Linked DNA regions of Homo sapiens: region 1 is linked to region 2. The links come from fine-mapping of genetic effects on gene expression. A gene starts in region 2. The other region holds a variant in brackets. All regions are shown on one strand. Distances are from middle to middle.

Region 1 (8,341 bases), 27 kb after region 2:
GAATAACTTGCTGCAGCTTTTACATAAAAACTTGCTGCTTCGTCCTGTACTTTTGTGTTATGGAGATGGCTTATTTCCTTAAACCTCATAAATCAACTTCTGCTAGCTTAAGACTTTTTTCCTGCAGCTTTCTCATCTCTCTCAGCCTTCACAAAATTAAAGAGAGTTAGGACTTTGCTCTGAGTTAGGCTTTGGCTTAAGGGAATGTTTGTGGCTGGTTTGGCTCTCTGTCTAGAAAACTCAAACTTTTTTTGTATCAGCCTCATTGCACTTTCTTATTCATCTATTCACTGGAGTAGTACTTTTTTTAAAATTAATTTTTTTTATTATACTTTAAGTTCTAGGGTACACGTACACAACGTGGGCCAAAGTTAGTGCCACTCCACTGGAGTAGTACTTTTAATTTTCTTCAAGAACTTTTCCTTGGCATTCACAACTTGGCTAACTTTGGCCCAAGAGGCCTAGCGTTTATCCTGTCTTGGTTTTTAACATGTCTTTCTCACTAAGCTTAGTCATTTCTAGCTGTTGATCTAAAGTGACAGGTGTGTGACTCTTCCTTTCACCTGAACACTTAGAGGCCATTGTAGGATTATTAATTGGCTTGATTGCAGTATTGTTGTGTCTCCGGAAATAGGGAGGCCCAAGGAGACGGAGAGAGATAGAGGAATGTCTGGTCAGTGGAGTGGTAGAAACACCACATTTATTAAGTTTTCCATCGTATATGGATGCAGTTGGTGGTACTCCAAAACAATTACAATAGTAACGTCACAGATCACTGATCACAGAGCACCAGAGCAGATATTATGATAATGAAAAAGGTTGAAATACTGTGAGAATTAACCAAAATGTGACACGGAGACACAAAGTGAGCACAAAGTGTTGGAAAAATAGCACAGATAGACTTGCTTAATGCAGGGTTGCCACAACCTTCGATTTGTAAAAAACATAATGTCTGCAAAGCACAATAAATCAAAGCACCTTATGAGATGTGCCTATATGTATTTTCAGCAAGAATGTCACAGAAGTAATGCTGTGTCATTATAACATTTTGGGGACCATTAATGTTGATCAACACCCAAGGTAGTGTGTGCTATGTTTCTCCATTCTATAAAGGTACAGTTTTTCTTTGTAATTAATATTCTATTAGACCACCACATCACACGGATTCCTTTTTGAGGAAGGACTTGTTGCTCAGTTTTGGTCAGTGCAGTCAGCAGATAGCTTCCAGCACTTTCTGCATGACTCATATCACCCAAGGTCACACCCTTCCTGGTGCAGCTTGCACACAATGCCTGAGTGAGATGGGGTGGAACTGCCCACTTCAGAGCTCCCTGCCGGTTGCTGAAGCCAGGACTATATTGCAGTGAGATTGCTCCCTTAGCCCAATTATACCTCTTCCCCCTTCCTTTCACATATGCTGGTCCCTAGTAAATACATTGCACCCCAAACTCTGTCTTAGCATCTGATTCCAGAGAACCCAACCTGAGTCATTTCTTATTGGGAGACATTTTGAAACCCTGTGAATAATCTGTTTGTTATTACTTTCACTTACTCCTTTTAGCATCTATTGAGAATTCTTGCTTGAAACAGTTATTACTGTCCTGGTTGCCAAATGGTGGTTTTCTAATTCCATGATTTCTTCTACATTTACTAGTTAGAATTCTACTGTATGGAAGAGATTATCCTTCTCCCATTTACTTATTTATTGATTCACTCACATATATCAGCATGCACCGGCAAATTCTATTTTGTGAATTATAATCTAACACGTATTTTATTGTTCAATTTGTCCCAGATTTGGCCAGTAGGAGCCAGTTTCCATCTTGTTTCTGTGTGCTTTGATGTGTCCTTATTGTTTTTTTAGTACTTCCTTTCTTTCTGGCAATATATTTCAGCATTGTTTGATACTTTTCCTGCCCCTGGAATTGGTCATTTCAACAGGGACCAAGAATGAATATAAAAAATGGAAACATTCAAGCATTAGAAGAAAATATGGGTGGATGATCTTAAGGCAATGAGGAAAGCCTCTAACATCTCAGAATCACCAAGCACAATAGAAAAAACAAACAAACAAAAAAGTAAGCAGATGTTTCACAGGAAAAAAAAAATGAAAATGACACATAAGCATAAGAAAAGATACTGACCCTCACTTATAAGATAAATACGAGGTAAAATTATCCTGCCATACCAAAAGATTGAAAACTTCATTGAGTAGACTGCAGAGAAACAGTCAGTTTCATTCATTGCTGGTAGAAGTATAAAATGGTACAACCCGTATAAAAGGGTTTTTGCAAAAAGCTAAAGACATGGTGGACAGATTTACTTTTGGTTCAGTAATCCCACTGTTAGGAATCTACACTGAAGATAAACTTCCACAAATAAACAACACATGCACAAGGTTATTTATTGCAACATTGTAGTGGCAAAGGATTGGCGACAACACAGATGCCCATCAATAGAAGGCTGATTGTATAACTGGAATATCCACACAACGGAATATTGTGCAATGCTTTAAAAAAAAAAAAAGGATGTCTCTGTGTGCTAATGGGTAGCGATTTCTAGAATTTGTAGGACATTTCACAAGACATCTGGCCTGATCTTTTCAAAAAGTCATCATCATATGGATTTAGGGAAGATGGTGGTAATAGTACATTATTTTTGAGTCACTCCAAATCACTGCATAAAAACAGAACATGAACAGTATCTGTAGCAAAACTAGTTTGCTAGAGAATGACAATGAGCTTCAGACAACCAAATTGACTGCAGAGATACAAATTAAACTCTAATATGAACATTAAATATTTATTTTCTTGTGGACCCAAGACTAAGACTAAATGAGGAATAATGTTTGTAATGGATACTATATGCTTTAACAATTTTGATTCAGCACAACTACTAGAGAATGGAGAGAGAATATATGAAAAAATTATTCAAACTTTTAAGTAATCATATTACTGGCAGTGTTATTGTCATTATCTCGAGATTATTGGGTAAGCAATATGGGGTATTCTAATTCTTCATCCCTTGTGTCCTTGAGAACCAGAATTCTCAATGGAAAAAGGAGATACAAATGTGAGATAGAAGATGTTAAGTAAAAACCCTGTAGACTTTAATTTTAATTGGAAATATCGGTATCAACTTATCAGGTATTTAATCTTCCTTTTAAAATGGTGTGCACGCACACACACAGACACACAGACACACACACACACACACGTAGGAAAGGAAAACAAACCCTGTTGATTACCAGACTAGTCATTTATGTAGAAAATCCCAAAGAAACTGCAAACAAGCTACTAGAACCGAAAAGTGAATTGAGCCAGCATACAAGGTCAATAAAAAAACTAAAACATATTTCTAAATACTATTCTATAGCAATGAGTAATTAAAATTGGAATTTTTAGAAATGCTGTTTATAATAGCATCAAAAACATGAAATATTTTAGGGATAAGTCTAATAAAATATGTGCAAGATTCTGTGTGATAGAGAAAATCTAAAATGGAGAGCTACGCCATGGTCATGGGCTGTAAGACAATATTTCAAAGACATTACTTCTCCCCAAGTTGATCTGTAAGTTCAGCCAGTCAAAATCCAGGCATCAGCCAGCACTGGATCTCCCAGAACAAACAAACAAAAAACAAAACCAGGCAGATTTTTGTTTGTGAATTCCCGCCTCCCACCCCCACCAGATGGAGTCTTGCTCTGTCACCCAGGCTGGAGTGCAGTGGAGTGATCTCGGCTCACTGCAAGCTCCGCCTTCTGGGTTCACGCCATTCTCCTACCTCACCCTCCTGAGTAGCTGGGACTACAGGCACCCGCCACCACGCCCGGCTAATTTTTTGTATTTTTAGTAGAGATGGAGTTTTACTGTGTTAGCCAGGATGGTCT[C/T]GATCTCCTGACCTCATGATCCGCCCGCCTCAGCCTCCCAAAGTGCTGGGATTACAGGCATGAGCCACCATGCCTGGCCTTGTTTGAGTATTTTTTTAAGGAAATCAATAAGATGAGTTTAAAATTTACATGGGCCAGACACAATGGCATGCAAGCTGTCTAGCTACTCAGGAGGCCTATAGTCCTAGCTACTTGGGAGGCTGAGACAGACAGACTGCTTGAGCCCAGGAGTTTGAGACAAGCCTGGGCAATACAGCAAAATCCTGTCTCTAAAAAAGGTAAAAATAAGTAAGTATTTATATGGAAATGCAAACCTAAAATAGCCAAAATACTTTTGAAAAATAATAAGTTGGAGGACCCATACTATCTGATTTCAAGATTTACTGAAAGCTATATGTAATCAAGACTGTAGTATCTGAGTAAGAATGGACATATAGACCAGTGGAACAAAATAGAGTTCAGAAATAAACCCTTACACGTATAGTCAGTTGATTCCCATAAGAAAATTCCAGGTTAATTTAATGAAGAACAAATAGTTATTTCAACTAACACTGTAAGAACTATTCACCATTCATATGTAAAAAAATTAACCTCAACCTTTACCTGTACCATATACAAAGTATCAACTTTTTAAAATGGATTACATGGGGGGGCATGGTGGGTCACACCTGTAATCCCAGCACTTTGGGAGGCCATGGTAGGCGGATCAGTTGAGGTCAGGAGTTCAAGACAAGCCTGGCCAACATGGTGAAACCCTATCTTTATTAAAAATACAAAAAAGTTGTCCAGGAGAGATGTCTCATGCCTGTAATCCCAGCACTTTGGGAGGCCGAGGCAGGTGGATCACGAGGTCAGGAGATCCAGACCACCTTGGCTAACATGGTGAAACCCCATCTCTACTAAAAAACACAAAAAAAATTAGTCAGGCATGGTGGTGGGCGCCTGCAGTCCCAGCTACTCAGGAGGCTGAGGCAGGAGAATGGTGTGAACCCAGGAGGCAGAGCTTGTAGTGAGCCGAGATCACGCCACTGCACACCAGCCTGGGCTACAGAGCGAGACTCTGTCTCAAAAAAAAAAAAAAAATTAGTGGGACACTGTGGTGCATGCCTTTAGTCCCAGCTACTTGGGAGGCTGAGGCAGGAAAATGGCTTGAACCAGGAAGCGGAGGTTTTAGTGAGCTGAAATCGCACCACTGCACTCCAGCCTGGGCGACAGAGCGAGATTCTGTCTGAAAAATAATAAAATAAAATATGAAATAAAATGAGAGCAAGACTCTGTCTCAAAAATAATAAAAAATATGAAATGATATAAAATGAAAATGAAATATATTACAGACCTAAATATAAAACCTATAAAACTTCCAGAAGAAAACATATGAGAAACTGTGACTTTCATAGGTTGGCAAAGATTTCCCAGGCATGAATGATAAAAGAAAAAAATTGATAAATTAAATTAAGACTTCATCAAAATTAAGAGTTTGTGCTCTTCAAAAGACACTGTTAAAAATATAAAGAGGCAAGTTATGGCCTAGGAGAAAATATTGGCACACACATATCAAGATTTGTATCCAGAATATATGAAGAACTCATGACTCAATAAGCAATACAGTTAAAAGAGGGGCACCATTGAACATATAACTTCACAAATAAGGGATAGTGATTGTTAAACACATGAAAAGATGCTGTAGTTATTAGAAAAACACAAAAGTGAAATGAAGATACCACTGCATATTTTTTAGAACAGCTAAATTTTAAAAACTGTCAATTCTAAGTATTGGTGAGGATGTGGAGCAACTATAACTCTGATCCATTGTAAGTGGAAGTGCCAAACACTTTGTGCCAAATACAGCCACTTTGAAAACAGTTTGGCTGTTACTGGTAAAGTTAAGCACATATTTAACATTAGACCCAGCAATCCCATTTTTAGATATTAAGTAATGAAAATTGATATTGTTTGGCTGTGTCCCCATCCATATCTCATCTTCAGTTGTACTCCTGTAATTTCCCCTGTGTTGTGGGAGGGACCCAGTGGGATATAATTTGAATCATGGGGGTGGTTTCCCCCATACTGTTCTCGTGGTAGTGAATGAGTCTCAAGAGAGATCTGATGGTTTTATCAGGGGTTTCTGCTTTTGCATCCTCATTTTCTCTTGCCTCCACTGTGTAAAAAGTGCCTTTTTGCCTCCAGCCATAATTCTGAGGCCTCCCCAGCCATGTGGAACTGTGAGTCCAATTAAACCTCTTTTTCTTCCTAGTCTTGGGTATGTCTTTATCACCAGCGTGAAAATGGACTAATACAAAAATATTATGTCCACCCAAAGGCTTGGTGAATACACGAGTAATCATAATAGACAAAAAGGTGAAATCACTCAAATGCCTATGAACTGATTAATGGATAAAGTTGTCATACCTCCATATAACAGAATGCTATTCGGCAGTAAAAGGACAAGCAGGGACTTCCAGTTCTGAGACAAGATGAAATAGAGACTTCTTCCTTTTCTTAGTAAGTACAGCTAAAATCCATGGAAAGTGTGCAGAAAACAAACCTGAGGAGACTCTGAAAGGTATCAAGAAGAAGCCAGATCAGCTAGGGACCTTGCGACCTGAGGAATAACATGGTGGTGTGTTCCCTAGATTTTTTTTTTCTTCATATATGTGCTAGAGAAGCTGTCAACCTGGAAACACCAATGAATACAGACCAAAACAAACCCTAGAAAAGACCAGTTTTATTAGTCAAGCCAGGAAAGGGACAACCTAGTAAGACAGAAAACTTGTAGACAATAACTGCCCTACTCTAGCCAAAAACAATAGACAAACTGTGCTCCATCCCCCACTCTCACCAGCAAAGACTGAGTATTGAGCTTAAGACCTCTCCTGCTTGCCCAGCTGTAACAAGACCCCCCTCCTGTGTCTCTTCCCCAGTATTCCTGCTGGGATAGTATCAGAAAAGGTGAAGCCCTAGTCAGGAGCCTAGATTTTCATTCCCACTGGGCAGTAATGATGTGTCCCTTCCATCCCCCCACCCCAAACAGTAACAAGTTCCCTCTCATGGTGTCAATGGAGGCTATCTGGGAAGCACTAAGGAGGCACCTCTACCCTTCCCAGCCAAGATATGTGTGCAGAAGCCTAGCAGGGAGCTGGGACTTGGACTCCCACCTGATGGCAACAAGGTGGTGCTCCCACATCTCTCACTGCACGGAGTCAGACGAGGCCTGCAAAAACAAATTTAAATAAGATCTAGAGTCTCAGCATAATACTAAAACATTTCAGGATACAATTGAAAACCATCCATCCTACCAAGAACCAGGAAAACTAAATGAGAAAAGAGAATAGATACTAAAACCAAAAAGACACAGATGTTGGAATTACTTGACAAGGACTTTAATGCAGCTATCTTTAAAGTGATTCAATTTGCTATTGAATTATGAAAAAATAGAATTCTCAACAAAGAAATAGAAGATGTAAAGAACCAGATGGAGATTTTTAAACTGAAAATACAATAGCCAAAATTTTAAAAAGTCAACTGAACAGCAGAATGGAGAGGGCAGAGAAAAAAAGTGAAGTGAATGAACTTGAAGATAAAACATTAGAAATTACCCAATCTGAACAAAAGAGAGAAAATATACTGAAAAATAAAAATGAACAAATCATCAGGGACTTGTGGGACTATTTTTAAAAGTTCTAATATTTGTACCATCAGAGTCCCAGGGGAGAAGAAAGACGATATGGTTGAAAAGGTATTCAAAGAAATGATAGCTTAAAATTTTCAAACTTGGCGAAGGACATATTCAAGAAGAACTTAAGAAGTTCAGCAAACTCTGAACAGGAAAATCCCAAAGAAATCCACTCCAACATACATTATAACCAAATTTCTGACCACTAAATATAAAATCTTGAAAACAGTGAGGACACTTTACCTATAGGGGAAAAACAGAATAACAGCAGATTTGTCATCAGAAACCGTGGAATTTAGAAGGAAGTAGTACATATTTAAAGTACTGAATGAAAAGAACTGTCAACCCAGAATTCTATATCCAGCATATAACTGGCCCATCAAGGTTGAAAGTTGACAGTTGTACATTCAGATAGCACATCCTCACATTATAAGAATTCAAAGCAAAAACAGGATAAAGGAAATAATAGAGCTTCTTTCTCACGTGCTTCTCACTTGTTAAGGAGGGCAAAAAAATTTTTTCCCAGTGACAGTTTTTCCCTCCCTCAAGATGTATCCATTTGCAAGAACTGGATCCCATAGCCATAGTAGATACAAGTATACTGATAAAGTGAGTATCTGATATTTTCAGGCTCAATAAGTGGGAGACAGGCAAGAAAAGGGGGCAATGAAGTGAAGAATAGGACATAGCCAGCCCTCATGTTCACAAAGAACCATAAATTAATGTTGTCTCTAAATGAGGTTAGTGTCATTGACAAGATTGAAAAATGACATTTCTTA
Region 2 (8,334 bases):
TTTATTTTGAGTGAACTCTAGTTCTGATTGTTGATTTTTATTTGCATCCTTTTTCAGTATTAGATCTCTTCATGTGTTTTAAAATTGTGGTTTAATTTTGAACTAGTGAATTGTTTGTATTTTCTTCTTCACTCTTTCCACATTTATATGTACATGGTTTCCATAAACCCCGTCTAATCGTTTCATAGCTGCCTCTACTTGCCCTCATTCTTCCCCAGCTCTCAGTCCAGAACTAGAATTTAAAATGGTATTTTCAGGTTCCTGGATGGTGGTTATAATGGGGAAACCACAGATCTAGTCCCCAGGCTAGTTGGCAGCTTGGTTTACTTCCAGGTTGGGGAGCTGCATGGTGTCCTCCAGTCTCCATGAAAAGCCATTATCCTAGAGATCAATCAGCACAATTCTCTTTTGTTAGAGAATGGAAAGGGATAGAGGTTGGGGATGAGGGTTTGAGGCTGACTTTGTCTTTTGTTTTCTATCTACCATTGCTATGTTTTGGAGTACAGTGGGTACATCAAAGCTGGCCTGAAGTCCTAAGTAGCTTCCTTGTTTTTTTTTGGAGAGAGTCTTGCTCTGTTGCCCAGGTTGGAGTGCAATGGCGTGATCCCAGCTCACTGCAACTTCCACCTCCCAGGCTCAAGCAATTCTCCTGCCTCAGCCTACGGAGCAGCTGGGATTACAGGCGCCCCGCCACCATGCCCAGCTAATTTTTTTTTTTTTTTTTTGTATTTTTAGTAGAGATGGGGTTTTACCATGTTGGACAGGCTGGTCTCAAATTCCTGACCTGGTGATCTGCCCACTGTGGCCTCCCAAAGTGCTGGGCCCACAGGCGTGAGCCATCGCACCCAGCCCTAAGTAGCTTTCTTATTACCTTCTCCACTGCCACAAATCAAGGTCAGGCTAGCATCATCTCTTGCTCTACGACTGCAACGGCCTCCCAACTGGTTTCCTTGCCTCTAGACTTTCCTCCCTCCAATCTGTTCTTCTTACCACAGCCAGAGTGATTGTTATAAAATGTAATTCTGCTCACGTCACTACACTGCCTAAAGTCTTTAAATGATTCCCTGTTGTCAAAACCAGTAGCAAAGATGGAGTGAAATCACAAGCCCAACATGGAAATGGAAGGAAGGGGTTTAAGATACTGGCTTCTATTGCTCACAAGCAAAGAACATTAATTCATGTCTGTAACCATTTACGACAGAAAGAGTCCAAAATAATAAAAATATTGCCTCCTCAAAAATGTGTCTGTCCTCATTGTACAAGGACATAGATCAGAAATATTCTCTAGATCCCACATAAATCACCTTAGAATATGTGGCAGTCATTTAGAAATCAGAAACTGGTCGGGCACGGTGGCTCACAAAAAATACAAAAAATTAGCTGGGCGTGGTTGTGTGTGCCTGTAATCCCAGCTACTGGGGAGGCTGAGGCAGGAGAATCGCTTGAACCAGGGAGTCGGAGGTTGCAGGGAGCTGAGATTGCACCACTGCACTCCAGCCTGGCAACACAGCAAGACTCTGTCTCAAAAAAAAAAAAAAGAAAAAGAAAAAAAAGAAATCACAAGCTAATGTAATCTGGTTGGCAACGCCAGAAGTTAGGAGGAGTAACTGGATAACAATAGAAAACTTTAAATATTTGTTCAACAATTTCTTACTAAATATTTCCTACTGCAAGTCACTGTGGATGTGCAAGAAATACTTTCTACCTTCTAGAACCTTACAAGGTAGTAGGCAAGATCACATATTTCAATGAGTATCAAAACTATTGGCTGAGCGAGGTGGCTTAGGCCTGTAATCCCAGCACTTTGGAAGGCCGAGGCAGGCAAATCACTTGACTCCAAAAGTTTGAGACCAGCCTGGCCAACATGGGGAAACCCCATCTCTAGCAAAAATACAAAATGCAGGCCTCACGTGGTGGTGCACGCCTGTAATCCCAGCTACTCGGGAGGCTGAGGCATGAGAATCACTTGAAGCTGGGAGGTGGAGGTTGCAGTGAGCCAAGATCACGTGACCGCACTCCAACCTGGGTGACAGAGCAAGACTCTACTGAAAAAAAAAAAAAAAAGAATGTGGCCTTATTTGGAAGTGGGCCTGTTGTAGATGTAATTAGTTAAGATGAGGCCATACTAGAGTAGGGTAGGCCCTTAACCCAATATAAGGGGAGAGACAGGAAAGGAGAATGCCACCTGAGGATAGCGGTAGATATTGGGGTGATGCCACTGCCACTGCAGGTCAAGGGATGCCATGGACTAATGGTCACCACCAAAGGCTAGGAAGAAGCAAAGAAGAATTCTCCCCTACAAGTTTCAGAGGGCACATGGCTGTGTTAGGTCATTCTTGCACTGATATAAAGGAATACCTGAGACTGGGTAATTTATAAAGAAAAGTGGATTAATTGGCCCACAGCTCTCCAGGCTGTACAGAAAGTATGGGGTCAGCATATGCTTCTGGTGAGGCCTCAAGAAGCTTCCAATCATCAGTTGGAGACAACATTGGAGACAACAGCAACAGGAAGGTCCCTCTCACCTTCCTCTCGCTCTTCTCCCCTGAAGCAGGCCATAGCACTAGCAAAAGCGTCTCAGGCCTTCCCCTGAAGGCAGACCTAAGACTGTTATTCAAGAGGTGCCCTCCCTCTACCCAGACAAAGGAACATCCTTATCTCTGAAGACACAGGACCACAGAGATAGACTTCTGCCTTCTCGGCAGAAGGCAAAGGGGAGCCAGCATGTCACATGGCAAGAGAGGGGGCAAGAGAGAGAGTGGGGGAAGGATCAGGCTCTTTTAAATAACCAGATCTCATGTGAACTACTAGAGAAAGAACCCCTCATCCAAGGGGATGGCACTAAACCATTCATGAGGGATCCACCCTAATGATCCAATACCTCCCACCAGGTCCCACCTCCAACACTGGGATCACATTTCAACATGGGATTTGGAGGGGACAAACATCCAAACCATATCCAATATCCTTGCCAACACTTTGATTTGGGACACCTACCCTCCTAAACTGTGAGACAACCAATTTCTATTATTCCCCAGTTTTGTGGTACTTTGTTATAGTCACCCTAGGAAACGAATGTGACAGTTTTATAGTTAGGTTATAAACAAAATGTCGTGAAAGATCATTTCTAGCAGCCCTGGAGCTTGTAAAGGACATGGCTTTGTGCTGAGCTCTAGCAGCATGGTTTTGGTACGTAGAGATGACATAGAGGAGAAACGGCTTTATGTTCTTCCATGTCCATCCGAATTCTATGTTGAGGTCTAACCCTCCTAAGCAGCCTCTCTGGAAAACTAGTTGAACTTGAACCTAAACCTACTGTCAACTAGGCCACTAACTAATATGACTTTTAAGGCACAAAATCAGGGAGAACAGAATCTTTTATACATGCTTTATTACTCAAGCAGCAGTGTGCAGTGATTAAATACTTACTCGCTTTTACTACATTTCTCTGACACAGCAAAGGGTGACGTCTTCTTCATGGAGACTTTAGTGAGCAGTAGCTAATTTAAAGCTCAGTGTAGGCCGGTCGTGGTGGCTCACACCTGTAATCTCAGCACTTCTTTGGGAGGTGGAGGCGGAGAGGGGTTGGGATTCCTTGAGCCTTGGAGTTCAGGGCCAGCATGGCAACAGGGCGAAACCTAGTTTTTACAGAAAATACAAACATCAGCTGGGCATGGTGGCGGGCCTGTAGTCCCTGCTACTCTGCAGGCTGAAGCAGGAGGAGTGCTTTAGCAGGGAGGTCGAGGCTTAAATGAGCCCAGGTCGTGCCACTGCACTCCAGCTTGGGCGACAGAGCGAGAAGACCCTGTTTCAAAAAACAAACACAAAAATTCATTCTAACCAAAACTGAATGCTAGTAGCAGGAACTGGTATGAAGATTGCGGTCTGGAATCCCTTCTAATGCGTCTGACCTTGCATTGTGAAGTCTTCACAGTGATGCTTCTGGGTTCTATATGATTATCGTCATTGCTTAGCAACCTCTAGTTGTAAATAAATTCTTTAAATTTCCTTAGTCGTTTGCGGGGCAAGGAGAGGGTCATTTACATGCCCTTTCCTTCTCGCTACTCAATCTTAAATTTGGGTTACGAATCAAACTGATGGACCCTACATGGCTTCTACCCGAAATTACAGGTATCTACCGTTCCATCTTCAAGAAAGGGAGGGGTTCCGCCAAGATGGACGAACATAAAAATCACAGGAGGAGCCTTCTAACAATGTGCATTCTTCGCACACTGAGTGGGGAATGGCCTTGTCATGTTTGAAACAGTGCCCCAACTACTCAATGTCCCAGGAACCCCAGTGGAGCGAGTTCTGTACACAGAGAGGGCCAAGATCCACAAATCAGCTAAGGAATCATTTCCATAGTCTCCCTCCCCTATTGAGTCTCGATCCACAAAAGCTATCCCCTGTCCCTCTCATCCATCAAGGGCGTGTTTTTCGCCTCTCCTTCCCCGGCCTCCCGCGTCCGCCCAGCCTGTCCGCATCCAGCCCCGCCACGCCCCATGGGCGGTCCCGAGCTGCGGCCCCGCCCCCTCACCGCCTCCCCGGCCGCGGAAACCCCGCCCCAACGACGCGGAGACCGGGGGCGGCCCGCGGCCCGCGGCGGGCGGGCTGGCGGGGACGGACGCGGGGGGAGGGGGGCGACGGGATGTGGGGTGGGGGCGGGGCCTGGCTGGGCGCCGGGACGGGAGGAGTCCCGGCGGCGCCTCGGACTTTTGCTCCCACAAGTCCTGCCTCGGAGGCGGGGGAGCTGGACCAGCAGCCGCCTGGAGCGTCCGAGTCACCGTCGCCGGGGCTCCCGCGCTCCCCAGAACGGTGGGACGCGGGGCTCGGCAGCCGCCAGCGGAACATGGCGCCCTGGACGCTGTGGCGCTGCTGCCAGCGCGTCGTGGGCTGGGTGCCGGTGCTCTTCATCACCTTCGTGGTCGTCTGGTCCTACTACGCGTACGTGGTGGAGCTCTGCGTGTGTGAGTACCGTCCCCGGGGACTGCGGCGGGGCGCGGGCCGCGGCTAGGGCGCGAGATAGGCCTCTGCGCCCCACACCCGCCGCCTTTCTGGAGCCAGCGCCGGACGCCGGGCGTCCGGCCCCGAACGCGCTCGGAAGCGCCGAGGTTGCTGCACCCGCCGCTTTGTTCAATCCTGCGGCGCGGCCTTGGGGCGACCTGGGGCTCCTGAAGCCTTGCGGCGGCTTCCCGGGTGCAGGTCTGGCCCAGGGAGGCCCCAAGAGCTTCCTGGTTCCCGCCGACACCGGGGGTCTGCATCCTTCTGGGAAGGAACGTGCAGAACGGGAGTAGTCGAGCTTCTTAGAAGGTTTAGGTTGTGTTTGTGGCTTTTTTGGCTTTTGTTCATTTTTTTTAAAAAACCAAATCTGTTCCTTCTGGATTGTTTTTGTTCAAACTGCGCGAGAAGAAACGCCTGTTACCTGTAGAGCCGGCTGTGGCGGGTTGGGGGAAGGGAGGTGTGTCTTTTGGTGGCCTCGGGCTGGAGGCGGGTCAGACCTGGAGGACGAGTAAGCTCCCACTTTTGATTTTTGGTGGTACTCGACTCATTGTAAAATTCGTTTATTTCTACTCTGAATCCAGCCGGCTTTTGCAGAAGGTTAAGACAGAAAGAATGGGTGGGAGGAGACATAACCTGATTATTTTTTTCTTGGCTGATTATTAAGGAGGCTTATATTTCTTATACTCATATTTTGGCGTGTTAATTTTCGTTACTTCCATTTTCCTGATAAGTTCTTAGCACAAAATTCTCATCTGATTCCCTGGAAAAAAGGAGTAGCATTGCAGTATACTTCAAGGATTTAACCTACTGGCTTGAATTGGTTGCCTTTAAGATTGAAGGAAATTGGTTGTCATTAATCAAAAACACTGTTTAGGGGTGACTGCTACATTTGTGATATTGGGCAATTTCTCCAACATTGTTTTGTCTTAAGTAAATTGTTCTTAGGCTTTGAGTATGTGGGTATTTTACACTTAAACTGGCCTCAACTAGGGTGTTCTGTATACATCTGCTGCCTATATCAATTTTTTATGAAAACCTAGGACCAAATGGTAAGTGGTGTTTGTAAACGTTATTGTTATTCCAGAATGTTCTACTCTTAGTCCTTAGACTGAATCTACCATTTTATGAAGGACTGTTAAGTGTTCTTTGAATAACGAACCACATCAGCTAGAAACTAATGTTATGAATGAGAAGAATCTGTACCACCCACTCTTGAAAGTGGCAGAATCAAGACTTCAATTATGTTTGGATTTGTACAGCTTTCAACCAAGTATTTGGTTAAAACCCTAGTTCTATACATGGAAGAGAATGCTTTGGCTCAGAAAATTTATAAGTTTTGAAATTAAAACATCCAGTTTTAAAATTACTTTGTACCTATAGAACGTTTAATTTTGGGACGACTATCCCTGCAGGTAGGCCCAGAATAAATTAGTTGTGGAATACATTTCCAAATAATATTAATCTTTTCAATATCATTGTTTAGTCTCATGCTTTTGGATACCAGAATGTTTACTAAAAATGATGTTTGAGTCAATTAAAATTACTAGATTTTAATATTTCTGGGAGCTACTTCCAGAAAGTGGTAGTGATCATAGGATTCTCATCAACTTATGATGATACCTCCTTTATCTTCTTATTTACTCTGAAGTGGGCATTTATTCTAAAAGTTATGTCATTCCTATTCTGTCAGAAGATTATTCCTACCGTATTTTAATTCCCGTAGTGGTTTTGAAGTAAAGCTGAAGGAACACTAAAAATGTGCATTTATGTTGAGATTCCACAGCTTAACCTGTAGATGGTTTTTGTCAAAAATATTAAGAAATGAGATCAAACAGTGCTGTGAAAAGTCTTAAATTGCTTCTGATTTCTTTCACCACTTCAAATAAAGAAGGAGAAATGAACATGAATTGAGAAGTGCCATGTGCTAGTGGGCATAGAGGGGACATTTCATTCACCCTCTCCTTTAATTCTTTCAGTATGTCACAGCATAGGTATCTCTACAGGTGGAGGACGTGAGACTGAGCGAATAGGTCCTTTTGGTTAGGTCACACAATTGATTATTGGAATGTGACCCACATCTTTCCGTTCTTTCATATAACTTCAGTAAGCTATGAGGGTCAATGGAACTGTAATTGTTTGGTCCATAATGGTGTGGGGGGATAAAGGGGTTGGCATATTTTTGGAGATCACTTAGTTAGGCTTGAGGCCCATTCTGTAGAGATTATACCCTACAATTTCATTAAGTTAAAACATTCTATAACTATGGCCTGATGCTTGGCAGAATCTTAAAATATTTGGTGGTGAAAGGTCTTATGTAGAGGCTGTATTAACTTCTGAGTTATCTCATTTTAACTAGAGAGAATTTGGGAGGTCTGCAGTGTCACTGGAGTATAAAATAGTTGAGCATAAAAGTGCATTTACTCATATTAAAACTATCCTTTAAACTACTTGTATGTATTTGTTTTCATAAGTACTGACCCTCCCACTGAAATATGTATAGATATATTACTTTATAGGAGGACTTAAATGGAGGGAAGTGTGAGTTTTACTTAAAAGTGCTGTTTTAATACTTTTATAGGATATTCTTTTTATTTATATATGTATTTTTTGAGCCAGAGTTTCACTCTTGTTGCCCAGGCTGGAGTGCAATGATGCGATCTTGGCTCACTGCAACCTCTGCCTCCTGGGTTCAAGTGACTCTCCTGCCTCAGCCTCCCAAGTAGCTGGGATTACAGGTGCCCGCCACCATGCCCAGCTAATTTTTTTTGTATTTTTAGTAGAGACGGGGGTTTCACCTTGTTGGTCAGGCTGGTCTCAAACTCCTGACCTCAGGCAATCCACCCACCTTGGCCTCCCAAAGTGCTGGGATTACAGGCATGAGGCATTGTGCCCGGCCTATAGGATATTCTTAGATTCTGGTATTCTTTATCAAACTAGGAGGAGAAGATCATAATTATATCTTTACATGTATGTATTAATTCATTTAATCTTAATAATGATCCCCATAAGGTTAAGTAATTTGTCCACGGTTATAGAGCCAGTAAGTAGCATGGTAAGAATTGGAATTCAAGGGGTTTGGCTCCAAAGCCCATGCTGTTAACCACTATACAATTAATGACTAATCTATTTGGTGTCCAGATCTGGACACTCAGGGCAGATTTCAGTCCTGTATATGATATATTTATATAAAGTACTTTTCTCCTAAAAGGCAGCTGCAGAAGATTCCTAAATATCTCAGACAATAAAAATACCTGGCCCACAGTTGGCTGTAAGTTGAACAAATTGTTGATTACCAAGAGGCCCTCATTCCATCTTACCCTCTGTAACTTGCTA

The links. PIP is the estimated chance that this variant, and not a neighbour inherited with it, causes the effect.
Region 1: its variant is the best candidate, but not a certain one, in a credible set for the expression of ZDHHC20 in whole blood (TOPMed, PIP 0.53).

The regions. Positions count from the first base shown.
Region 1 is chr13:21,428,963-21,437,303 of GRCh38, reverse strand. All of the region lies in intron 1 of ZDHHC20 (zDHHC palmitoyltransferase 20), which reads left to right. Among named protein-coding and RNA genes, the nearest start is that of ZDHHC20, 26 kb to the left of the region's middle. The variant C/T (reference allele first, on the strand shown) is at 3,890.
Region 2 is chr13:21,455,687-21,464,020 of GRCh38, reverse strand. ZDHHC20 (zDHHC palmitoyltransferase 20) reads left to right here and starts at 4,718. Exons shown (of 13, transcript NM_001330059.2): 1 at 4,718-4,967. The coding sequence starts at 4,850. LOC124903131 (a long non-coding RNA gene) reads right to left here and starts at 4,474. Exons shown (of 2, transcript XR_007063713.1): 1 at 3,842-4,474; 2 at 3,375-3,638. RefSeq lists a cis regulatory region at 4,477, an enhancer at 4,393-4,562 and a silencer at 4,426-4,805.